Linked DNA regions of Homo sapiens. The protein of the gene in region 3 purifies or fractionates together with the protein of the main gene of each other region. This does not show direct contact. Each region holds a gene or a part of one and is shown on either strand. Other genes may lie near its edges.

Region 1 (3,500 bases), on a different chromosome or scaffold from region 3:
TATTGGGCTACTCTGTCCTAGGCATGGTCCTCAGCTGAGAGGTCGCAGCCATCCCAAGACAGAGGGGTCCTTGCCACATGGAGACTGCATTCTAGTAGGGAATACAGCAAACTGGCTGATAAGCCATATGACACACAATGTTGAGTAGTGATAAGGACCTGGGAGAAAAAGAAAGCCCAGGAGAATGGTGGAGGGGCCGTTTTAAGATAAGGCGGTCTGGGCCAGGTACAGTGGCTCACGCCTGTATCCCCAGCACTTTGGGAGGCTGAGGTGGGCGGATCATGAGGTCAGGAGATCGAGACCATCCTGGCTAACACAGCGAAACGCTGTCTCTACTAAAAATACAAAAAATTAGCCGGGCGTGGTGGCATGCGCCTGTAATCCCAGCTACTTGGGAGGCTGAGGCAGACGAATCACTTGAACCCAGGAGGCAGAGGCTGCAGTGAGCTGAGATGGCGCCACTGCACTCCAGCCTGGGCGACAGAGCAAGATTCTGTCTCAAAAAAAAAAAAAAAAGATAAGGTGGTCAGGGAAGGCCTCTCTGAGGAGGTGAAGCTTCAGCTGGCTCTAAACCAGGGGAGCGGGAGAGACGCAGTGTAGGACAGTATCGGGGAAGAGCAGGCCTGTGTCTTCTCCGGTGGCCTCAGGGAATGAGGGAGAAGGAAGGTGCTGGGGAGGCTGGCAAGGCCTGGAGGATGCAGGCCTTGTGGGCAGGACCTGGGAGTTGCGATGTCACTCTCCGTGGCAGGAAGCTACTGGGGCTTCGAGGGGAGAAGTGATATGCTTTGATTTACCTTCTTAAAAGATTGCCCCAACTGCTGGGTGGAGAACAGGATGACAGGGGCAAGCATGGAGACAGGGAGGCCAGTTAGAGATGGCGTGATTCAGGCCAGGATGGAGGGGTGAGAACTGGTATGCAGTTCCAAAGTAGAGCTGATAGGACTTGCCCAGTGTCTGGGATCTTATCCAGTGGATGCCCAGAGCTTGGGTCTGGGGGATGAAGTGGGTTTAATCTGCCAAGGGTTGGGGATGTCATTTGCTCCTGGAGCTCCCAAGGGACTTGGGGAAGGTTGTTCCCAACCCCTTTCTTCCCTTCCCAGGGGCTGCCGGGAGGCTATCAAAAGGATCGCCTATGAGTTTGTAGAGATGAAGGCCAAAGAGGGCGTGGTGTATGTGGAGGTGCGGTACAGTCCGCACCTGCTGGCCAACTCCAAAGTGGAGCCAATCCCCTGGAACCAGGCTGAGTGAGTGATGGGCCTGGAAGGGGCCATGCTGAGGGTGTGGCTGGGAGGCTCAGCTCTGAGACTGGAAGGGCGAACTGCTGGGAATCCCTGACCCAAGCAAGACCTTGTTCTTGCCCCCAGTCTGGTCCATGGCCTCAGAAAGATGGGTTTAACTCTGTCACAAGAGACGTGGTTCCCATCCTCCCTTTGCCGTTATGTTCTTACCTTGGGCACAAGTGTTTGGCTGTGTCTTGCTCTGGCCACAGGCCTGCTGTCCAGGAATGTTAACCTGCTTAGCCACCCAGGATTTCTGAGGGGTCTCCCTTGTCACTGATGCTGATCAGATCTCTAAAGGCCCTAAAGGTCCTGCTCTAACTTCATAACTGAAGTGAGTCTGGCCCATTTCTAGCCCCCTGCCTGGGCCCCCATGGATCTCTAAGTGGTATCACAAAACCACCCTGCCCCATTTTCTGAGCCATGATTCTGATACATATAGAATGTGAACATCATGGCAGGCCCAAGCTTAGCAATGCTGTCCATCTGGGGGTGGGGAGGGCCATGTTGACACCCCACACCTCCCACTAAGATCTAGGAGCACCCAGCTGCTTTAAGAGCTAGAGGGACATGCTAGGGCCTGGGGGCATCTCTGCCAGTCTTTCCTCTGAGGCAGTGGGTCAGTGGGGGAGGAGGGTCCTCCCCAAAGCCTCCTCTTCCTCCTCTGTCCCAGTCCCAGAGCTGCCCTTTAGGCCTTCCTTTTGCCTCAGGCCCATCCCTACTCCTCTCCTCACACAGAGGGGACCTCACCCCAGACGAGGTGGTGGCCCTAGTGGGCCAGGGCCTGCAGGAGGGGGAGCGAGACTTCGGGGTCAAGGCCCGGTCCATCCTGTGCTGCATGCGCCACCAGCCCAGTGAGTAGGATCACCGCCCTGCCCAGGGCCGCCCGTCTCACCCTGGCCCTGACCTCCTGGCCTAGCAGTGGGGCTGTACCTGATCTCCCCTGTGCCCCACAGCCCCATGGTGTCCCCTTGAGCCCACTGGCATGAACTTGGGGCTTCATGAAACAACTGGAGACCTCCTAGGCAGGCTCAGAACTTCTGGAGATGTTCTCCCCAGGGACACCATGCCTTTATAGCCACCCTGCAGGAAGCTCAACACCAAATAGGAACGTAACTATTGAAAAAAAAATCTAGGCTAGATTCTGATCAGCCCATAGTCCTCCCTCGAGACCCAGTGGACCAGGCCCCATCCTGTCTGGGCCTGAATAGGTCTGATTTCCAAGATTTCTGAGGGGTCTCCCTTGTCACTGACGCAGATCAGATCTCTAGAGTTTGTGCCTCATGGTGCACAGCCTCACTGTGTGATATTGGGCAGGTCACACTGCTGCTCTGGTTATGCACCAAGACACCTCAGTTGTGCACTGTCACAAGGAGATGATCACACTTACTTCATTCCTCTACCCTCAGGATTAGTAAGAACCAAAGAGCTACCTGCACGCATTTCCTCTAATCCTCGCAGCAGCCTGCAAAGCAGAACTACCATTGCTTAGTCCCATTTGACAGATGAGGAAACTGAGGTGGAGTGAGGTGCAGCCTCTTGCAAGGCACAAACCCTGGATTTGTATCCGGGGACATCTAGTTCCAAAGCCTGTGTTCATTCATTCTTTCTTAAACACTTCAGAATAACTTTATTGGTTAAGAGTACCTAATACATTAGCGAGATACTTCCCAATACTAGTGTGAGTTCTATTTTAGATGACGTGTTAAACGGTCCTCCGTTTCCTCATCTGCGCATGGGAATAAGCCTACCATGAGTGTTGTTGGAAACACCAGGTGAGAGAAGGGTCCGTGTCATTTACTGAGCTCAGGCCCCGTCCTTGGTGCTTTACACACATGGCCTCGGCAAAGCCTGGCCGTGACCCTGTGCAATAGCTGGCAGGGTTCTTTCTGAAAAGGGCGGAAACTGAGGCCATAAGCAGAGCAGTTTTCCGCAGGCCATGTGGTTAGGACATAGCAGTTAGGATTTGAAGACACTGAGCCCTGTTTTGTGCTGGCCTCCCATGGGGGGTTTGGGTGGGACAGCAGGCAGGTAGGCTGGGAGGTCTCTCCATGGTGCTGGTGACAGAGCCTGGGTGGGCATCTCGCCCACAGACTGGTCCCCCAAGGTGGTGGAGCTGTGTAAGAAGTACCAGCAGCAGACCGTGGTAGCCATTGACCTGGCTGGAGATGAGACCATCCCAGGAAGCAGCCTCTTGCCTGGACATGTCCAGGCCTACCAGGT
Region 2 (3,500 bases), on a different chromosome or scaffold from region 3:
GCTTAGCCCTGGCCCTGGCTGGATGCAGGACAGGTTGGCAGGGAGGCAGCAGAGCCAAATTTTGTACAAAGGAGCTGGTGCTAGCAAGCTCAGGAAGAAGCCACAGCCGGAAGTTCACCTTGCCAGGACCTGGCTCAGCTGCAGGTTCCCACCGGGCCACCAGGTGGCGGTGGGAGCCCAGCCCTCTGAGTCCACGTTGGGCCCCAGTCTCACTCTGTCTTCAGGACAAAGCCAGGGGCTGCAGCCCTTGTTCAGCAGACTCTGGCTTTTCACAGCCTGTTTGAAAAAGGGAGTAGCTTCATTTGATTGAGTTTCCACTATATCATGGGCATATACTCTGTTCTAGTAAATCCCTATTTTACAGAGGAAGAATTTTAGCTCCCGACAATGATGTATCTTCCCTGAGTTCCTGCAGCTAATGAGAGGCAGAAGTGGGATTTGAACCCAAGTCCCTGTAACAGCAGAGCTCAAGCCACACTCCATTCTGGCCCCCACGCTACTCACTTCTGTCTGCACCCTGTATCCACTCAGCCAAGCCTGGCGGCACTGCTCTGTAACCCTCCACCAGCCTGTCCACAACCCCTCCTGAGGCTGCCTGTGGCCAGTCCTCTCCTCCCCACCCCTTCCTGCTGGTCACCCGTGCTTCCTGGCACCACCACACTATTCACTCATCCAGGCCTTGGCTTATGCTCCCCCTCTGGCTGGAAGAGCCTCCCTTTTCCCTCCTCCCATGTCTCCTGCCCCCTTTTTCCCTACCCCGGTCCTGCTTATCCTTCCCAGAGACCTCCAGGCCCCTCGGGAGGCTGCGGCCCCTCCTCTATGCTCCCATGGTGCACGTGCGCTCCTCGTGTAGCAGTGCCCACTACACATGGCTGTGACCTCTGCTGTGTTTCCACTGAGGGCAGGAACAGCATTGTTATCTCTTTTTTTATTTCCGAGATGGAGTCTCACTCTGTCACCTAGGCTGGAGTGCAGTGGCACGATGACAGCTTACTGCAGCCATGACCTCCCAGGTTCAAGTGATCCTCCCACCTCAGCCTTCCGACTAGTGGGACTCCAGGCATGCACCACCATGCCTGGATCATTTTTCATATTTTTTGTAGAGATGGAGTCTCATCATGTTGCCCAGGCCGGTCTCAAAGTCTTGGACTCAGGCGATCTGCCTGCCTCAGCCTCCCAAAGTGCTGGGATTACAGGCATGAGCCACTGCACCTGAGCTGTTATCTCTACACATAGTGTCTAGTGCTGGGCCTGGCATACCAAGAGGCTGGGGAAATGTTTGCCCCGCGTTGGAGCACCAGGGAGCAGCGGTGGCTGTGGAACCTGCTCAGCTCCTCCCCCAGCATAGGAGCCTCAGCCTGAGGCTTTTCTTCCTTTTGACAGAAGAAGGTGTTGGGCCCCAGTTTTATTAAAATATTTTACACTGCAGGCAACCACTCCCCCATTTTCTTTGTATTGCAGCCATTTTTTCAGAATAAATTGAAGGTATGGTGCAAGACACTTCATAAATTAGGTACTGAATAGAAAGTCACACATTACTGAAAACTCACAGAAATACCCACCTAAGATGTCGCCCAACTCAAGGAAGTCCTGTGCTCCTGGAGTTCCTAGGTGGATGCGGGAGAGGGGTCTACACCACAGCAGTGTGGCTGCGCAGGATGGGGGTATCTGTACTGACCACATTCTGACCTCCTTCTCACTCCTCCCTTGCAGACCTCCAAGAAGCTGGTGAACTCGGTGGCTGGCTGTGCTGATGACGCTCTTGCTGGCCTGGTGGCCTGCAACCCCAACCTGCAGCTCCTGCAGGGCCACCGCGTGGCCCTCCGTTCTGACCTGGACAGCCTCAAGGGCCGGGTGGCACTGCTGTCGGGTGGGGGCTCTGGCCATGAGCCTGCCCATGCTGGTGAGTATCCTGGGGTGGGGCAGGGGGTACTAGTGGAGTGGACAGGGCCTCCTGGGGGATCCTTAGTGCTGCCATGAAGTGCAGGATGGAGCTCAGCCCAGAATCAGGAACTGGGGTACTTCCCACTCTCCCACTCCCTCCGGCTGGGATCAGGGGCCCATCACGGCCTCTCTGAATCTGTTTCTACATCTACAAATCTACGAAGTTGGGCCAAACAATCTCTCAAGTCCTTCTAGCTCTGAGAGTCGGTGATTCCATGAATCTTCTGGACCCTCCAAGCCCAGCAGACCCACCCCGATTCCATGAAGGCTTCCTGACTCTTCCAGCCTACAGCAGCACCCCTCTTCTGAATTCCCACCTGCTGTGTCCCACTTGTGGACTGTCCTGGCTTCTTTCCTGTGTGGAGCCAGGGACGCAGACTCTCCTTGAGGGCTGCTGGAGGGCAGGGACTAGGATGCGCGTCATTTCTCTGCTTCCTGTCTTCCTTCAGCAAAATCCATTCATTTGGCAAACACTCATGAGCCCACTGTGTACCTGGCGCTGTACTGGGCACTAGGGATACCAGACAGGCAAGGTCCCTGCCCTCGTGGAGCTTATATTCTACTTAGGGGAGACAGACAATAACCAAGTAAACACGAAAGTAAATGAGATCATTTCAGAGGGTGCTAAGTGACTTAGTAAAGACAGTAAAATGGGGCAAAGGAACAGTGAGTCCCTGGGGAGGGAGCTGGTGACTGCTTCAGGCTGGGAGGTCACAGAAGGCCTCTCTAAGATGCCTCCTAAGAAGGAGTCAGCCATGTGAAGACCTGGGGGATCTTTGAGCACCAAGCACACAGTAGGGCTCACCAAACCATGACCCCCGGAGTGTGGGAAGCCCCAGTGACTACAGGCGCGAGTCCCACCCAGCATGCTCACTCCACTCCTTCCACCTCCAGGTTTCATAGGGAAGGGGATGCTGACTGGGGTCATCGCGGGAGCTGTGTTCACCTCCCCGGCAGTGGGCAGCATCCTGGCAGCCATCAGGGCCGTGGCCCAGGCCGGCACAGGTAAGCCTGGCATGCAGGAGGGGCTGCGGCAGGGAGGGCACAGTAAGCACACTGAGCCCTTCCGGCTGCTCCCGCAGTGGGGACGCTCCTTATCGTGAAGAACTACACTGGGGATCGGCTCAACTTCGGCCTGGCCCGGGAGCAGGCCCGGGCTGAAGGCATCCCGGTGGAGATGGTGGTGATTGGGGACGACAGCGCCTTCACTGTCCTGAAGAAGGCAGGCCGGCGGGGGCTGTGCGGCACGGTGCTTATACACAAGGTGGGCTTCCACCGGGGACGTGGAGACTGGCCAGCCCTTTCCAGCCTTCCCTTGCCTGGCAGCACCCAGTAACTGGACCTTTCCAGCCCTTCCCCAAGAAGCTAGTTCTTTTTCTCCAGTGTTCCCTGATCTCAGAAGGCCCCGCCATCCCCTCAGCTACCTAAGCCCAGATACAGGCATTTTCCCAGACTCGTCCCCTTTTCTTCTCCACACCCAATCAGTTGCCCGGTCCTGGTGCTTCTCCTCCCAAATGTACAACACACATCCTTCTCAGACCCCGCCCTCCTGCTTT
Region 3 (3,500 bases):
CCATGCTACTCTGATTTTAAGTCCTGCCAGTCAGTGTGGGAACCACAATTTGAACGCAGGCTATATTGGATCAAAGCTGTTGTTCTGTCACAGCCTTTGTATGTCTGTCCTACCTACCAGGGATTTTTACACTAAAATATGCATGTTGCCATGGAAGGATGCCACCTTTCGACTGTTGGCTGCTTATCCACACATGCCTCATGCACAGGATTCTGGGGTAGAAGTGGGAGACTACAGAGTTGGGGCTCCCCAACCCCCAGGGGTTAACATGACTCCCCTCTGACAATAATGGGTGACCTGTCACCTGTTTTTGGTATTTGATATCTTAACCCCATTCTCCCAGAGAATACAATTCATGGAAATTTTTACCTAACTTGGCATGGGGTTCATGGAGCTCAGGTTAGGAGGCCCAGAACTGGAGAGCTAAGGCATACTTCATCAGCTTAGCACATGACGACTGTCTCTCCAGACTGCGTGGAGTGCATGGCGTGTTCAGACAACACAGTTCGTGCTGGCCTGACACCCAAGTTCATTGATGTGCCAACCCTGTGTGAAATGCTCAGCTATACCCCTAGCTCCAGCAAGGACAGGCTCTTTCTCCCAACACGGAGTCAGGAAGACCCCTACCTCTCAATCTATGACCCCCCTGTACCAGACTTCACCATTATGAAGACGGAGGTGAGTGAGGGGCTATGATGGGTGTCCTTCGTGTGCCATGAAAATCTCTGGCAAGGGTCACGATGTGGAGGACACCTGGGGCTGGGTTTCCTGTCAAGCCCACTTGGCGGAGGGTGGCCCCAGGGCCTGCCCATTCCTTCCTGTACCAGGGACCAGGCCTCTATGCTGACTGAGCCTGGGTTGTGCGAGAAGGTGGCAGAGCTCTCCCTCGTGCCCTGGGGACTGTCCTGGGCCCATGAGCTGATGAGAGCAGAGTCTGAGCTGCACTGCCTTATCATTTCTTCCTGCCCAGGTCCCTGGCTCTGTCACTGAATACAAGGTCTTGGCACTGGACTCTGCCAGCATCCTCCTGATGGTACAGGGGACAGTAATAGCCAGCACACCCACAACCCAGACACCAATCCCTCTGCAACGTGGTGGCGTGCTCTTCATTGGGGCCAATGAGAGTGTCTCACTGAAGCTTACTGAGCCGAAGGACCTGCTGATATTCCGTGCCTGCTGTCTGCTGTAAAGGCTGCAGCCTCCCCAGCTCTCCTCTGCCAGCCACCCTAAATTCCAGCCAACCTCACCTCCTCGGGCCCAGCTCAAGCCCCCTTCCTTGCTCTGGACCCCTTAGGTATACCCTGGAAGAGCTGGGGTGGGGGAGGAGGGAGCGTGAAGGTAGTGACTCCTGAACACACCCAGGTGGAACCATCTTTGGGGAGGAGAGGCCCGTGTGAGGGGTCTGATACTCCCTTTGTCTTCCCTCTCTACTCCTCGCTACACCTGAGCCAGGCTCTTGCCAACTCTGTTCCAGCCTATGGCTTTAGGCTAGCTGTTAAATATGTGACCCAGCATTAGCTCAGCATCTGTCAGAGCAAGAGACCAGGTAATTTCTAAGAACAGGGTTCTAGCGATGGGACTGCCCATTTCCTCAGCTGCAGAGGAGGAAAGGGAAAGGGTAGGCCTGTAGACTAACGCTGTTTACACCCTTGTTCTGTCAAAGCAATTAAAGATCACTTGTGTTGAGGCTGTGGGGTAATGAGCACTCAGCCTTTGGGGTACCTGTTCCTAAAGTGGGCCAAAAGAGCCCTCCCTACATGATGCCCCAGTTTTTGCTTTATTCCTATTTCATACAGCTTCTCGGGGGAGTGAGCAGGCTACACTCCAGAACACCGGTATGGGAAGGAGTGGGAGAGGAAGCCAGCTTTGGCCTCACAGGCACAGCTTGCAAGCAGGCCTTGGGTCTGCCCAGAGGCACAGCTTGCAAGCAGCCCTACAGAGAAGGTGACTCAAAGGATACACCAGTCACCAGTGCAAGACTCTTCGCTCCTGTTTTTCTCTTTTTTTTTTTTTTGAGACGGAGTCTCGGTCTGTAGCCCAGGCTGGAGTGCAGTGGCACGATCTCGGCTCATTGCAAGCTCCGCCTCCCGGGTTCACGCCACTCTTCTGCCTCAGCCTCCCAAGTAGCTGGGACCACAGGCGCCCACCACCACGCCCAGCCAATTTTTTTGGTATTTTTAGTAGAGATGGGGTTTCACTGTGTTAGCCAGGATGGTCTCGATCTTCTGACCTCGTGATCCGCCCACCTCAGCCTCCCAAAGTGCTGGGATTACAGGCGTGAGCCACCACGCCTGGCCCGGCTCCTGTTTTTCAACTGGCCCTAGAGGAGGGGTCCGCAAACCAGGCTGGCAGGCCAGTTCTGGCCATACCTGTTCATTTCCATACTGTCTGGCTGCTTTCAAGCCACAGTGGCAAAGTTGAAGAGTTGCACTAGACTGTACGGCCTGCAAAACTGAAACCATTGACTGTCAACCACTTCTCTACAACATACTCAACTGTTGCAGATTACAGGGACTCAGGAACCGAATTAGACAATTTTCATGGCGAGGAGAAGCCCAGTTAGCTTTCCTAAACGGGCAGGAAGTGTGAAGGAGGGAATCTCCTGATGCCCTGCTCCAGGGGTGGCACACACCTGCAAGAGGCTGTCGGCTGTCTGCTGCTGCTGAGGTTTCTGACCTGCAATCGTAGATCCTGTCACCACAGACTAATCACTTAGTCCACTGGCTCCTTCCTGTGGGATAAAGGTTTAAATTCATGCAAAAGAATCTTTCTGGGCTTCTGCCCACACTAGAGTCCCTATACAATGGAGTTCCAGGAAACCACCTTCAAAAATCTCCTGGGTTTTCTTGCCTCCAAATTTTCTTCAGCTAAAAAACAATAAAGATGAGCTGGAAAGAAAAGGTCTGCTAAAGGGAACCCATTCTACAGAAGTGACTTGCAAGAGCCTATTTCACTCATGCCGTCCAGTGAAACAGGCCCGAAAGTGATGCCCAGTGGGAACAGCAGAAAGGGGAGGGAGTTTCCAGAAGGAATTGCTGTAGTCAGCTGTTAAGCTATTTCTTCATTTCAGGATATCCAGGATATTCTTAACTTTTATTTTTTTGAGACGGAGTCTCGCACTGTCTCCCGGGCTGGAGTGCAGTGGCGCGATAGCTCACTGCAACCTCCGCCCACTGGGTTCAAGCGATTCTTCTGCCTCAGCTCCTGAGTAGCTGGGACTACAGGCGCCTGCCACCACACCCAGCTAAGTTTTTGTATTTTTAGTAGAGACGGGGTTTCAGTAGAGACGGGGTGACAGGATCTACAATTCCAGGTAAGGTCAGGTTGGTCTCAAACTCCTGACCTTGTGATTTGCTTGCCTCAGCCTCTGAAAGTGCTGGGATTACAAGCATGAGCCATTGTGCCTGGCCAAGGCCTTTAAAATCCACTGCAACACAGACACAGCTCAACTAGTGTGATTGCATTTATTCTTATAAATGTACAGAGCTGTAGAAGTGCAA
Region 4 (3,500 bases), on a different chromosome or scaffold from region 3:
ATAAAGGAAAACCTATCAGATTAACAGCAGATTTTCAGCAGAAACCCTAGAAGCTAGAAGGGATTGGGGCCCATCTTCAGCCTTCTCAAACGAAACAATTATCAGCCAAGAATTTTGTATCCAGCGAAACTAGGCATTGTGTATGAAAGATACAGTCTTTTTCAGACAAACAAATGCTGAGAGAATTCACCACTACCAAGCCACCACTACAAGAACTGCTAAAAGGAGCTCTAAATCTTAAAACAAATCCTGGAAACACATCAAAACAGAACCTCTTTAAGACATAAATCTCACAGGACCTATAAAACAAAAATACAATTTAAAAAAAAAACAAAAAAACAAAGTACACAGGCAACAAATAAAATGACAAATGGAATGCTACCTCATATCTCAATACTAACATCGAATGTAAATGGCCTAAATGCTCCACTTAAAAGATAAGAACTGCAGAATGGATAAGAATTCACCAACCAACTATCTACTGCTTGAAGAGACTCACCTAACACATAAGGACTCACATAAACTTAAGGTAAAGGGGTGGAAAAAGGCATTTCATGCAAGTGGACACCAAAGGTGAGCAGGAGTAGCTATTATATCAGAAAAACTAACTTGAAAGCAACAGCAGTTAAAAAAGACATAGAAGGGGCCAGGTGCAGTGGCTCATGCCTATAATCCCAGCACTTTGGGAGGCTGAGGCGGGTAGACTGCCTGAGGTCAAGAGTTCAAGGCCACCCTGGCCAATATGGTGAAACCCTGTCTCTACTAAAAATATAAAAATTAGCCAGGCGTGGTGGCGGGCACCTGTAATCCCAGCTACTCGGGAGGCTGAGGCAGAATTGCTTGAACCCGGGAGGCAGAGGTTGCAGTGAGCTGAGATCACGCCATTGCACTCCAGCCTGGGCCACAGAGGGAGACTACGTCTCAAAAAAAAAAAAAAATACAAAGAAGGACATTATATAATGCTAAAAGACCTTGTCCAACAGGAAAATATCACAATCCTAAACATTTATGCACCTACCACTGAAGCTCCCAAATTTATAAAACAGTTACTAATAGACCTAAGAAATGAGACAGACAGCAACACAATAATAGTGAAGGACTTCATTACTCCACTGACAGCACTGGACAGGTCATCAAGACTGAAAGTCAATGAAGAAAAAATGGATTTAAACTATACCTTGGAACAAATGGACTTAACAGATATATACAGAACATTCCATCCAACAACTGCAGGATACACATTCTATTCAACAGCACATGGAACTTTCTCCAAGATAGACCATATGATAGGCCACAAAATGAGCCTCAATAAATTTAAGAAAGTTGAAATTATATCAAGCACTCTCTCAGACCACAGTGGAATAAAACTGGAAATCAACTCCAAAAGGAACCTTCAAAACCATGCAAATACATGGAAATTAAATAATCTGCACCTGAATGATCACTGGGTCAAAAACAAAATCAAGATGGAAATTTAAAAATTCTTTGAACTGAAGGACAATAGTGACACAGCCTATCAAAACTTCTGGGATACAGCAAAGGCCACTTTTCCTCCTAAGAGGAAAGTTCACAGCCCTAAATGCGTACATCAAAAAGACTGAAAGAGCACAAACTGACATTCTAAGGTCACACATCAAGGAACTAGAGAAACAAGAACAAACCAAACCCAAACCCAGTAGAAAAAAGGAAATAACCAAGATCAGAGAAAAACTAAATGAAATTGAAACAAACAAACAAAAAAATACAGAAGATAAAAACAAAATGCTGGTTCCTTGAAAAGATAAATAAACTTGATAGACCATTAGTAAGATTAACCAAGAAAAAAAAGAGAGAAAATTCAAATAGCCTCAATAAGAAACAAAATGGGAGCAGAAATACAAAAGATCATTCAAAGCTACTATGAACACCTTTACGCATATAAACTAGAAAACCTAGAAGAGATGGATAAATTCCTGGAAAGATACAAACTTCCTAGCTTAAATCAGGAAGAATTAGATACCCTGAACAGATCAATAACAAGCAGGAGATTGAAGTGGTAATTAAAAATTACCAACCAAAAAAGTCCAGGACCAGACTGATTCATAGCAGAATTCTACCAGACATTCAAAGAAGAATTGGTACCAATCCTATTGACACTATTCCGCAAGACAGAGAAAGAAGGAACACTCCCTAATTCATCCTATGAAGCTAGCATCACCCTAATACCAAAACCAGGAAAGGATACAACCAAAAAAGAAAACTACAGGCTGATATCCCTGATGAACACAGACGCTAAAATTCTTAACAAAATACTAGCTAACCGAATCCAACAACATATCAAAAAGACAATCCACCATGATCAAGTGGGTTCCATACCAGGGATGGAGGGATGGTTTAACATATGCAAGTCAATAAATGTGATACACCACATAAACAGAATTAAAAACAAAAATCACATGATCATCTCAATAGATGCAGAAAAAGCATTAGACAAAATCCAGCATCTCTTTATGATTAAAACTCTCAGCAAAATCGGCATACAAGGGACATACCTCAATGTAATAAAAGCCATCTATGACAAACCCACAGCTAACATAATACTGAATGGGGAAAAGTTGAAAGCATTCCCTCTGAGAAATGAAACAAGACAAGGATGCCCTCTCTCACCACTCCTCTTCAACACAGTACTGAAAGTCCTAGCCAGAGCAGTCAGACAAGAGAAGGAAATAAAGGGTATCCAAATTGGTAAAGAGGAAGTCATACTGTCACTGTTTGCTGATGATATGATTGTTTACCTCAAAAACCCTAAAGACTCCTCTAGAAAGCTCCTAGAACTGATAAAAGGATTCAACAAAGTTTCCAGATACAAAATTAATGTACACAAATCAGTAGCTCTTCTAAACACCAACAGCAACCAAGCAGAGAATCAAATCAATAACTCAACCCCTTTTACAATAGCTGCAAAAAAAAATGAAGTACTTAGGAATATACCTAGCCAAGGAGGTGAAAGACCTCTACAAGGAAAACTACAAAACATTGCTGAAAGAAATCATAGATGACACAAACAAATGGAAACACATCCCATGCTCATGGATGGGTAGAATCAATATTGTGAAAATGACCATACTGCCAAAAGCAATCTACAAATTCAACACAATCCCCATCAAAAAACCACCATCATTCTTCACAGAGTTAGAGAAAACAATTCTAAAATTCATATGGAACCAAAAAAGAGTCCCATAGCCAAAGCAAGACTAAGCAAAAAGAACAAATCTGGAGGCATCATATTACCTGACTTCAAACTATACTTTAAGGCCATCGTCACCAAAACAGCATGGTACTGGTATAATAATAGGCACATAGACCAATGGAACAGATTAGAGAACCCAGAAATAAACCCAAACACTTACAGCCAACTGATCTTCGAGAAAGCAAACAAAAACATAAAGTGGGGAAAGGACACCCTTTTCAACAAATAGTGCTGGGATAATTGGCTAGCCACATGTAGGAGAATGAAACTG
Region 5 (3,500 bases), on a different chromosome or scaffold from region 3:
TAATTTTGTATTTTTAGTGGAGACGGGGTTTCTCCATGTTGGTCAGGCTGGTCTTGAACTCCTGACCTCAGGTGATCCTCCCGCCTTGACCTCCCAAAGTGCTGGGATTACAGGCATGAGCCACCGCACCTCGCCTACTTATTTATTTTTAAGAAGGAGTCTCACTCTGTTGCCCAGGCTGGAGTGCAGTGGCATGATCTCAGCTTACTGCAACCTCCGCTTCCTGGGTTCAAGCAATTCTCCTGCCTCAGCCTCCCAAGTAGCTGGCATTACAGGCATGCACCACCATACCTGGCTAATTTTTGTAATTTTAGTAGAGACAGAGGTTTCACCACGTTGGCCAGGCTGGTCTCGAACTCCTGACCTCAGGTGATCCACCTGCTTCAGCCACCCAAAGTGCTGGGATTACAGGCTGAGCCACTGTGCCCAGCCCAGTTTTGTGATCTTTAGAAAATCACTTCTCCATGCCTCATTTTTCTCATCTGTAGGATAGGGGAAGTAATGATACTTAAAATATAAGTTTCTTGTGAGGATCAAATAAGCTGATTTATGTATAGCACTTAGAACAATTTTTGGAACATTCTAAGTGCTCACTGAATGTTAGATCTCATTTTATTAATATCGTTATTGCCACTATATGCTGGACCTGTTCTAAGCATTCTGTGGATATTTAATCTTCACACCAGTCCTATGGAGTAGTTCCTGTTATTTTCAGCATTTTAGAGGTAAGAGAATGGAAACTGAAATGACCTGCACAGTCACGTGGCTCATCCCAATCTGTCTTTCCCTAGGGGCTGGGGTGAGGTTCACAGAAGATAATGTGCCTTGAGCACTTGGTGAACTGTAAAACTCTAAACCATTGAGGGCCCTAGTTTTATCTGTTCTCCTGGCCCAGAGCAGATTAGAAATAGCAACTTAGTGCCAAGGTGGAGGGTGGCAAACACAGGCCCTTCAGAAGGGCAGTTGGCAGCACTGGGGGAGGTGCCTGAAAAGCACAAAAGCAGGCATTGCAGCCCCATGGCGTCGCCTACCTTGGTGGAGAGATAGGATTGAGCTTCTGTGTGAGCTCTTTGGAATGCTCTTCCTGACCCCTAACCAGTTTGGGGCCTGGGACTTGGCACGTGGCTGGCACGTAGTGTTCTCAGCCAGTTCATCCAGACATGGTAGTGCAGGCTTGATATGAAGATGATCTTGCGGTTTTGGTGGACATTCTCCGTTCAAGAAGCTAAGACGGGTTATAGTAAATTTTAAATAGATTTCAACATAAATGGTTGATAACAAAGTCAGCTTCAGGTATGCATGTTAGATGACGTGAGACTAACCACCCATCCCGCGGGCACCCCTCGTTCCACCTTGTATGTGGCTTTCTGCGTTTTCTCCAGAGCGCACAAGGGCTGGTGAGAAGATGCTGGAAGTGTGGCAACTCAGGGTGTTTGGTTGCCCAAAAGCATGTCTGGTGTGGCTTTCCCAGCTACCTGGTGTCATGAGACTGATCACTGAGTCTCATGATTTGGTCATTGAAACAACCAGAAAGGTCTCTGACTTCTCTGTCCCCTCTTCTCTTCCTACGGGTCGGACTCGGGAACATCAATAGGAGGTGCTCCTGTACCCTGGCCACAGCCCAATCCTGCCACTGCTGACATCTGGGGAGACTTTACCAAATCTACAGGGTAAGGAGGGCCATGTTCTGCGGAGGGGCTGGGGCCAGGGCCGTTGCTCTACAAACCTGGTATTGTTCCACATGCCTGCCTTCTGGTGTTAGGATTAGGAGTAACAGTTTTAATTTGGATGTTTTCTTTTCTTTTTTTTTTTTTTTTGAGAGGGAGTTTTGCTCTTGTTGCCCAGGCTGGAGTGCAATGGCATGATCTTGGCTCGCTGCAACCTCTGCCTCCCAGGTTCAAGCTATTCTCCTGCCTCAGCCTCCTGAGTAGCTGGGATTACAGGCACCTGCCACCACGCCTGGCTAATTTTTTATATTTTTAGTAGAGATGGGGTTTTACCATGTTCGTCAGGGTTGTCTTGAACTCCTGACCTCAGGCGATCCACCTGCCTCGTCCTCCCAAAGTACTGGGATTACAGGCATGAGCCACCGCGCCTGGCCTGATTTGGATGTTTTCAAGCTAGCCAGAGGACAGAGCCCCAGCGTGCCTGCTTTGGGTGGCACACGTCTTTCCGTGGAGGTTTTGCTGCTTTCCAGTGCTATATAGCCTGGGGCAACCCTTTGCAAATCTGGGCCTTTAAACCGCCTTCCCAAGTGCTTTGGCTTGTCCCCAGTACCTCCTTCTTCTATACCCCATCCCCCACCTTCCCCAAAATAGTGGACTGAGAGTTCAGACCCAGGCTCCAGCCTCAGCCCATCCTCATAGAACGCCTGAGGCTAGGTGGCTTGTCTTCTCTGATTCCATAAGATCTCAAGACTTTACTTGGGGCCAGGGTGAAAAGATACTAAATTCCTACTGCACTATTATTTACATGGACAGATTCTAGGACAGGGGTCAGCACACATTTTCTTTTTCTTTTCATGTTTTGAGACAGGGTCTCTCTCTGTCACCCAGGCTGGAGTGCAGTGGCACTATCACGGCTTACTGCAACCACATTCTCCCATGTTGCTGGCTCTACAGGTGCACATCACCATGCCAGCTATTTTTTGTATTTTTTCATAGATACGGGGTTTTGCCATGTTGCGCAGGCTGGCCTTGAACTCCTGGGCTCAAGCGATCTGCCTGCCTCGGCCTCCCAGAGTGCTGGGATTATAGGCACGAGCCAGTGTGCCCAGCCACATTTTCTGTAAAGGACTAGATAGCAAATAGTTTAGACTATTCAGGCCGTGTGGTCTTCGTTCTAGCTACTCAGTTCTGCTCTTGTTGCACAAAAGCAGCCACAGACAATATGTAAATAAATCAGCATGGCTGTGTGCCAGTAAAATTTTATTTACAAAAATAGAGGCATGGGCTGGGCGCGGTGGCTCATGCCTGTAATCCCAGCACTTTGGGATTCCCAGGCAGGCGGATCACCTGAGGTCAGGAGTTCAAGACCAGCCTGGCCAACATGGTCAAACCCCATCTCTACTAAATACACAAAAATTAGTTGGGCGTGGTGGGGTGGTGCCTGTAATCCCAGCTACTTGGGAGGCTGAGGCACGAGAATTGCTTGAACCCGGGAGATTGCAGTCAGCTGACATCATGCCACTCTAGTCCAGCCTGGGTCACAAGAGCAAGACTCCATCTCAAAAAACAAATAAACAAACAAAAAAAACAGAGGCGTGAAATGAGGACTGTAACCCTTTTCCTGTTTGCCCTGAGAAAACTTGCCAGTGGCACTTCAGACTGCAGCGTTGACCCTGAGATAACTTTGCCACAAAATGTATTGCTTTTATATTATTTTTGCATCGCTCTAGTATATCAGCTTTGGAACAAAAGACATTCTATTTATAGCATTCTGTTTTTAATAGTGGTATTTCCATTTACAAAATATAGTAATTCTGTTTTTTTTTTTTTTTT
Region 6 (3,500 bases), on a different chromosome or scaffold from region 3:
GGATCACTTGAGGTCAGGAGTTCGAGACCAGCCTGACCAATATGGTGAAACCCGGTCTCTAATAAATATACAAAAATTAGCCAGGTGCGGTGGCGGGTGCCTGTAATCCCAGCTACTAGGGAGGCTGAGGCACGGAGAATTGCTTGAACCCAGGAGGCGGAGGTTGCAGAGAGCTGAGATCGCAATACTGTACTCCAGCCTGGGCGATAGAGCAAGACTCCATCTCCAAAAAAAAAAAAAAAAAAAAGGTGGGGGGGGGAGTATAACAAAAAGCCGAGAACAGTATTTTCAGTGACAATACCAAGACTCAAAAAGATTTCGACAAGCTGATTCAACCAGCTGAAATCAAAAGAAAAAGTCTAACAGAAACAAGTGTCAATTTCCACATTCAACTTCAAACAATCAATTGTGCAAATAGAGAACAGGGTGCCTAGCTTCTCTGGAGTGTTTTAATACAGTGAATCCTCCTGAGATATAAACAACTGTGTTCAAGTCTACACTAAACAGTGCCAGACAGCTACTCTTTTTCACTTCCTGCATTTCTTTCTGTCTTCTGTCAGCTGTCACTTCTTAGGTTATCAGTTTGTTTTGTCCCACTTCCAAGTCACTGCTTCTAATCTACTGTCAGCTCTAGGAAAACCAGATAACTGAGCAAATGGGAACTGTGTGCAAGTTACAGAAGAGCCTAGAGGGTTTTATGGGTTTTGCTATATATATCTTGATTTCTCAGAAGCTGTTTCTGCTCTTATCTTCATTCTTGTCTACAATACACATGGCTATAACTGCAGGACATGCAAGTTCTGAATAGGTGATATATTTCTGTATCATGTCCAGACTGAGGAAAACAATAAGCTCTTACAGTTGTGTGCTGTTCATACCATGTCTGGAATACTGTTTTCAGTTCAGATCAACAATTACAACACATATAGTAACAGGACCAGCTGGTAGCAAGTCCACATATCATGCTGTATTAAGCCAAGTGAATGTGCTGGGAATGTTTAACCTTGAGACTTTCTAAGATGAAATAAAAGTGCTTGTGGGGGATGGGGTTGGCTGGAGGGGAGAGCTGCCATCAGAAAACCTGAAGGATTAACCACTACAAGACAGAACAGGCTTATTTCCCATTGCTCAAATGGGATAAACTGTAAACAAGAGTCAAGCATTATAGGAAAAGCAGATTTTGGTTCAAACACAAATGTTTAAAATGTCCAACAGTAAAGTAGGCTGCTTCTCTAAGCAGCAAGCTACTTAACCTTAAAGTACTTAAGTTGAGGCTGGAGCCTCATTTCTCTGGGATGTTGGAGAAAGAATTCCTGCACTAGACAGGAGGTTAAACTACATTCTTTAGACTCTTCCAAAACAAGGCAGTGTAGCAAGAAATTCATTATCATTCATTTAATTCATTTTGCAATTCTTTGCAATTATCATTCATATAATTAATTTTGTCACATAAGGTGGAATGAAAAGGTAAATCAATACTACGAAAATGTGAGTTTAGAGTAACATATCAAAGTACAGTACATATACCAATAAAATGATGCAGAAGCAAGAAAAACTCACCTCCTGAACAGAACATGGCAAAACCACACGGCTAAAAAGACAAAAGAAAAAATATATATATTACATATGAAATAGCTTTAAACACAGATCTCTGAAGAGGTTTTACCTTAAATCCAATGATAACAGAGACAGGTCTCTTAAATCAAAAAAATACAAGGGTGTCATTTATGGAAGAGGGTCTTTGCAATGCCTACACCATAATTGGGGAACTAAAACTATCATTCCTGGGTCTCAATGATCATTTGCATTTAGTGTTCCCAGGACCCCAAACAGCAGCTGCAGAGATTCTTGTGAGTAAAGAAAAAAGAGAAAACTCAACATTGAAAATTGCAGGGTACAGAACGTATTATTTGCAGATTGTCTGGTCAGGTTGCCCTGACTAAATTTTTAGTATGGTTTCATTCTCCACCTATATACTGTGCATTTTGTTTTTATGATGCTTCTTACAGAATACGTGTCTTGAATCTCATTGAATAAACGCTTCCAGAAACTGTTCCCCCACTATTCAATTATTCCTCAAGTTTACTAAGAGAAAAATAAGGAGTCGTGTAGAATTAGTAAGAAAAATTTTACTATGGAAACTACTTGAACCTTATAATAATCCCTTCCAGCATATATACAATATAAGGTTGACATGTGTTTCATCCTGTCCAAGAGTTTCTTATTGTATATACCAAAAAGATGTCATTATAGCTCCATTGCAAGCAGTCTTAAAAGATAAAATCCAAAACAGTATCATGGTATATTGTTTTATCAAAATATTGCATCTTATCTCTAGATTTTATAAGGAGAGTCCTTAATTTATTTCCACCATAAATCCTGAAAACCAAGAACATCCCTGTATATCAATGGTCTCATAATTATAGTTGGTTCCAAGACAGCAACTTCCTTTTTTGTGGGATGGGGGTATACGATCCTTCTCATACTTTCCTAATCTTATCTGTCATTTTATGGAAAATTTTCAATAGTTTTCCTCATTCCAATTTCTTTTCAGCTTATAATTTCTTTTTCTTTTTTTCTTGCAGTAAGAGTCATTTAGCTTATTGTTTGTATTAGTGACAATCTTTTTGGCCTAGGCATTCTTTTTTAATAGTCTTTCTTATTCGTAAGTATGAAGAGAGTAATAAAACCCAGATTATATCTAGTTTGCATTCCAGCTACACTTTCCATCTACTCCTTTCTCCCTACTCTCCTCAAACATCTATGTCTGAATGTTCACATTACCTCAATCTCCAACATGCACAAGTCTGTTACTCCCTCCCCTTTGACTACTGAGTTACTCGCCACTCTTTGTCTTTCTGGTAACGGTGATTCAAAAACAATGAACACTCTCAAATCCACAATGGTCACTAATTTCTACTCTCCATCAAGAATAAACTTTTTGTAAGTCCTTCTATACCTAAAAATTCCGAATCATTTCTCTTCTCAGTATACACTAACTTGCTCACTGTCCCAGAGCATAAAATGAGGGAGAGGAAGACTAGAAAGCTATAGGTTGGGAGCAGATTATCAGGACCTGGAATACTATGGTAAGAAATCCATTAAATTCATCAGGCAATAAGGAATCCCAAAAGGTTGGTCCAAGAGGTAAGTGACAACTACTGCTGACCTGAAGAAGTCATCTGCAGGTGGTTGAAAACACTGACAAGCAGGAGAAGTGGGGAAAGCTATCTTTTGGGAGGCTAGGCAAGAACTGTCACAAAGGCCTGAACCAAGATGATGGACTGCAGAGGGAATGGAAGGAAGGGATAGAGAAAGAAGAGTTAGTCTTCCCTTAAGTTTCACAAAACCAAAGAATCACTGCTGAGTAATTTTACACTCACTAACAGGAAGATCCCTATTTTTATTTAAGAACACTTTCAAGGAAATTCTTTCAAAAAATTAAAGTGACTGATTAAGACATTCAGAACAATGAGTCAAGTAACTTCTTCAAGATTTGC
Region 7 (3,054 bases), on a different chromosome or scaffold from region 3:
AGCTTCCTACCTCAAGAGCAAGCATATCTCTCCTTTTCTGCCTTAGGACTCTCTGAAGTTATAGAAAGCTAAGAGCAAGCTTTAACTTGGAAAGACTAAGAAACTAACACCCCCTCAGGAGCAGCCCTCAACTGTGGGGAATGGGAATTGGTGGCTAAATACCATCCTTCTGGAAGGGGCAATTCTAATACGTATTCCGTGAGATTTCTCAGAGAGTCCCCAGTGGAATTGAACCCCAGTTGTTTTCTTTCTTGGCTTTTTTCCCTTCTGTTTCTCACTCTTTTTTATCTCTCACTGTGTTTTCTGGAATCTCATTTCATAAAAGTAAATACACCCAAATTTGTATGTCAGACTCTGCTTTCAGGAAATCTCAAACTAAGATAACTTGCTGTGTTCCCAAAGGTGGGTAAAGCAGGAATCTGAGATTTCCAAGGAATCTCAAGAAATGGATGCTCGTCCTAAGTTGGATCTGGGCTTCAAGGAAGGACAAACCATCAAGTTGTGTATCGGGGTGAGTATGGTTTTTAAAAATTTTGTTTTCCTGTGCTTCCATAAGCCTATGACATCTTTCTCTTGCTCTTCTTTTTTTCTTTTGTAGAACATTACAAACAAGAAAGGAGGTGCTTCTAAGCCCAGGACTGCAAGGGGTGGGGGTCTGAGCTTACTCCCACCCCCGCCAGGAGGCAAAGTCACTATTCCCCCACCATCCTCCTCAGTTGCCATCAGCAATCATGTCACCCCACCACCCATTCCGAAATCTAACCATGGAGGCAGTGATGCAGGTAAATCTAGTACTTCTAATTTTGAGAAATCCAATCTTATGTTTTAATTAAGCAACACCTGTTTGTCAAGGAGAGTTAATGTTTTTGCTATGAAATAGCTCATGGTACTGACAAGGTGATTCTGTCAGCTTCTAGCAAGGAATCAAAGCTTTTCTAGTGAACTAAGAGTCATAGTATCTCATAGGTTCTTTGGCAGAAAATATTTGCTTATTAAAATGACAATTTCCTTCATTTTTTTCTTGGTTAGATGCTTATAAGCTTTTGAGTCAGATGGACCAAGATTTTGGTCATGGCTCTGCTACTTTATATTTGAATGTGCTTGGTAAACATTACTTAAGTTTTTTGAGTTTCAATTGCCTTATCTACAAACTGGAGATGTAAAACCACCCCAGCGGGGACCTTGGCTCATGCCTGTAATCCCAGCACTTTGGGAGGCTGAGGTGGGTGGATTGCTTAAGCTTAGGAGTTTGAGATCAGCCTGGGCAACATGATGAAATCCCATCTCTACAAAAAAAATACAAACATTAGTTGGACGTGGTGGTGCACGCCTGTAGACCCAGCTATTTGGGAGGCTGAGGTGGGAGGATGGCTTGAGTCTGGGAGGCTGCAGTGAACCATGATTGTGCCACTGTACTCCAGTGTGGGTGACAGAGTGGGACCTTGTCTCATAAAAAAACAAAGAAACAAACAAAAATAAATAAATAAATAAATAGATAAAATAAAATAATTACCACCCCAAGGTCATGAGGGTTAAATGATTGACAGCACCTAGCATAGCACTTGGAACATAGTAGGCATTTAGTAAATGTTATTAAACTTTCCCATTTCTTCACAAGAGCAATTGGGAGAAAAGAAGATATCTAGGTTTGTCCATACACTTTCATTCTTTCTTTCTGTTTGGTGGGAGAAAGAATAAATATGGTTATATCTTCTCATTTGAAAAATGAGAGCATTGGAACTGAGAAAAGAATTTTTCTGAGATTAGAGAACTGTGTCTTAGAATCTGAGAATTTTAACTTAATGTATTGGACAGTGCAGATAATTTGTTGAATTGATTACTAAGGGTAAGCTTTCTCTTTCTGGAATTTTTGAGGTGAAAATATTATAGCCTGCTTCTTTTGGTAAGTGTTGCCAGAAGCCACTGGGGATAGTATCTAAGATTTTTTTTAAATTAAATTATTATTTTGAGATAATCGTAGATTAACATGCAGTTGTAAGAAATAATATGAAGAGATCCTGTTTACCCTTTTCCCAGTTTCCCTCAATTGGTAATATTTTGTGGAACTATTGTCAAGTATCACAAATGAAAAATTGATGTTGATACCACTTTCTCATCTTACTCAGCTTACACCATTTTACATGTTCTCATCTGTGTATATTTGTGTGGATCTGTATATTTAGTTCTATGCAGGATTTTTTGTTATTTTTTGAGATAGGGTCTCACACTGTTGCCCAGGCTAGAGTACAGTGGTGCAGTCATAGCTCACTGCAGCCTCAAACTCCTGGGCTCAAGAGATCCTTCTGCGTCAGCCTCCCAAACATCTGGGACTACAGGTGCACACTGCCACACCAAGCTAATTTTTTAATTTTTGTAGCAACAGAGTCTCACTACGTTGCCCAGGCTGGCCTTGAACTTCTGGACTTCAGTGATCCTCCTGCCTTGGCCCCCTAAAATGCTGGGATTACAGGTGTGAGCCACTGCATCTGGCCAGTTCTTTGCAGTTTTGTCATGTGTAGGTTCATGGATCCACCATCATTTCAGGTTATAGAACAGTTTAATCACTACAAAGATCCCCTGTGTCAACCTTACACAACCACACCCATCTCCCTCTCATCCTTTCTTCCCCCATTCCTAACGCTTGGCAATCACCAGTCTGTTCTCCATCTTTATAATTTTGTCACTTCAGGAATGTTCTATGAAAGGAATCATACAGCATGTAACCTTTGGGACAGGCTTTTCCCACTCAGCATAATTCCCTTGAGATTCATTCAAGTTGTGTGTCAATAGTCTGTTTCTTTTTATTGCTGAATAGTATTCCATGGTATGGATATACCAGTGTGTGTAACTATTGCCCATGGAATGACATCTAGGTTGTTTACAGTTTTTGACCATTATGAATAAAGCTGCCGTGGCATTTGTATACAGATTTTTGTGCAAACATAAATTCTCATCTCCAAGATTTTTTTTTTTTTTTTTTTTTTTTGAGACGGAGTCTCGCTCTGTCGCCCAGGCCGGACTGCGGACTGCAGTGGCGCAATCTCGGCTCACTGC

The links.
Region 1: the proteins of MPI (region 3) and ADA purify together in Homo sapiens (affinity purification with mass spectrometry; one large-scale study listed by BioGRID and IntAct). This does not show direct contact.
Region 2: the proteins of MPI (region 3) and TKFC purify together in Homo sapiens (affinity purification with mass spectrometry; one large-scale study listed by BioGRID and IntAct). This does not show direct contact.
Region 4: the proteins of MPI (region 3) and FAM185A fractionate together in Homo sapiens (co-fractionation; one large-scale study listed by BioGRID). This does not show direct contact.
Region 5: the proteins of MPI (region 3) and NECAP2 fractionate together in Homo sapiens (co-fractionation; one large-scale study listed by BioGRID). This does not show direct contact.
Region 6: the proteins of MPI (region 3) and PITPNB fractionate together in Homo sapiens (co-fractionation; one large-scale study listed by BioGRID). This does not show direct contact.
Region 7: the proteins of MPI (region 3) and NECAP1 fractionate together in Homo sapiens (co-fractionation; one large-scale study listed by BioGRID). This does not show direct contact.

Annotation. Positions count from the first base shown.
Region 1 is NC_000020.11:44,624,200-44,627,699, reverse strand, and holds part of ADA (adenosine deaminase), read left to right. Parts: intron 1-1,100; coding exon 1,101-1,244; intron 1,245-2,015; coding exon 2,016-2,131; intron 2,132-3,370; coding exon 3,371-3,498; intron 3,499-3,500.
Region 2 is NC_000011.10:61,336,228-61,339,727, forward strand, and holds part of TKFC (triokinase/FMN cyclase), read left to right. Parts: exon of another isoform or gene 1-22; coding exon of another isoform or gene 23-163; intron 164-1,713; coding exon 1,714-1,903; intron 1,904-2,838; coding exon 2,839-2,949; intron 2,950-3,026; coding exon 3,027-3,208; intron 3,209-3,500.
Region 3 is NC_000015.10:74,896,542-74,900,041, forward strand, and holds part of MPI (mannose-6-phosphate isomerase), read left to right. Parts: intron 1-469; coding exon 470-678; intron 679-970; coding exon 971-1,189; 3' UTR 1,190-3,500. UniProt on the Homo sapiens protein: Isomerase that catalyzes the interconversion of fructose-6-P and mannose-6-P and has a critical role in the supply of D-mannose derivatives required for many eukaryotic glycosylation reactions.
Region 4 is NC_000007.14:102,800,999-102,804,498, forward strand, and holds part of FAM185A (protein FAM185A), read left to right. Parts: intron 1-3,500.
Region 5 is NC_000001.11:16,454,224-16,457,723, forward strand, and holds part of NECAP2 (adaptin ear-binding coat-associated protein 2), read left to right. Parts: intron 1-1,594; coding exon 1,595-1,670; intron 1,671-3,500. UniProt on the Homo sapiens protein: Involved in endocytosis.
Region 6 is NC_000022.11:27,912,757-27,916,256, forward strand, and holds part of PITPNB (phosphatidylinositol transfer protein beta isoform), read right to left. Parts: intron 1,592-3,500; coding exon 1,561-1,591; intron 1-1,560. UniProt on the Homo sapiens protein: Catalyzes the transfer of phosphatidylinositol and phosphatidylcholine between membranes. Also catalyzes the transfer of sphingomyelin.
Region 7 is NC_000012.12:8,092,274-8,095,327, forward strand, and holds part of NECAP1 (adaptin ear-binding coat-associated protein 1), read left to right. Parts: intron 1-402; coding exon 403-511; intron 512-598; coding exon 599-782; intron 783-3,054. UniProt on the Homo sapiens protein: Involved in endocytosis.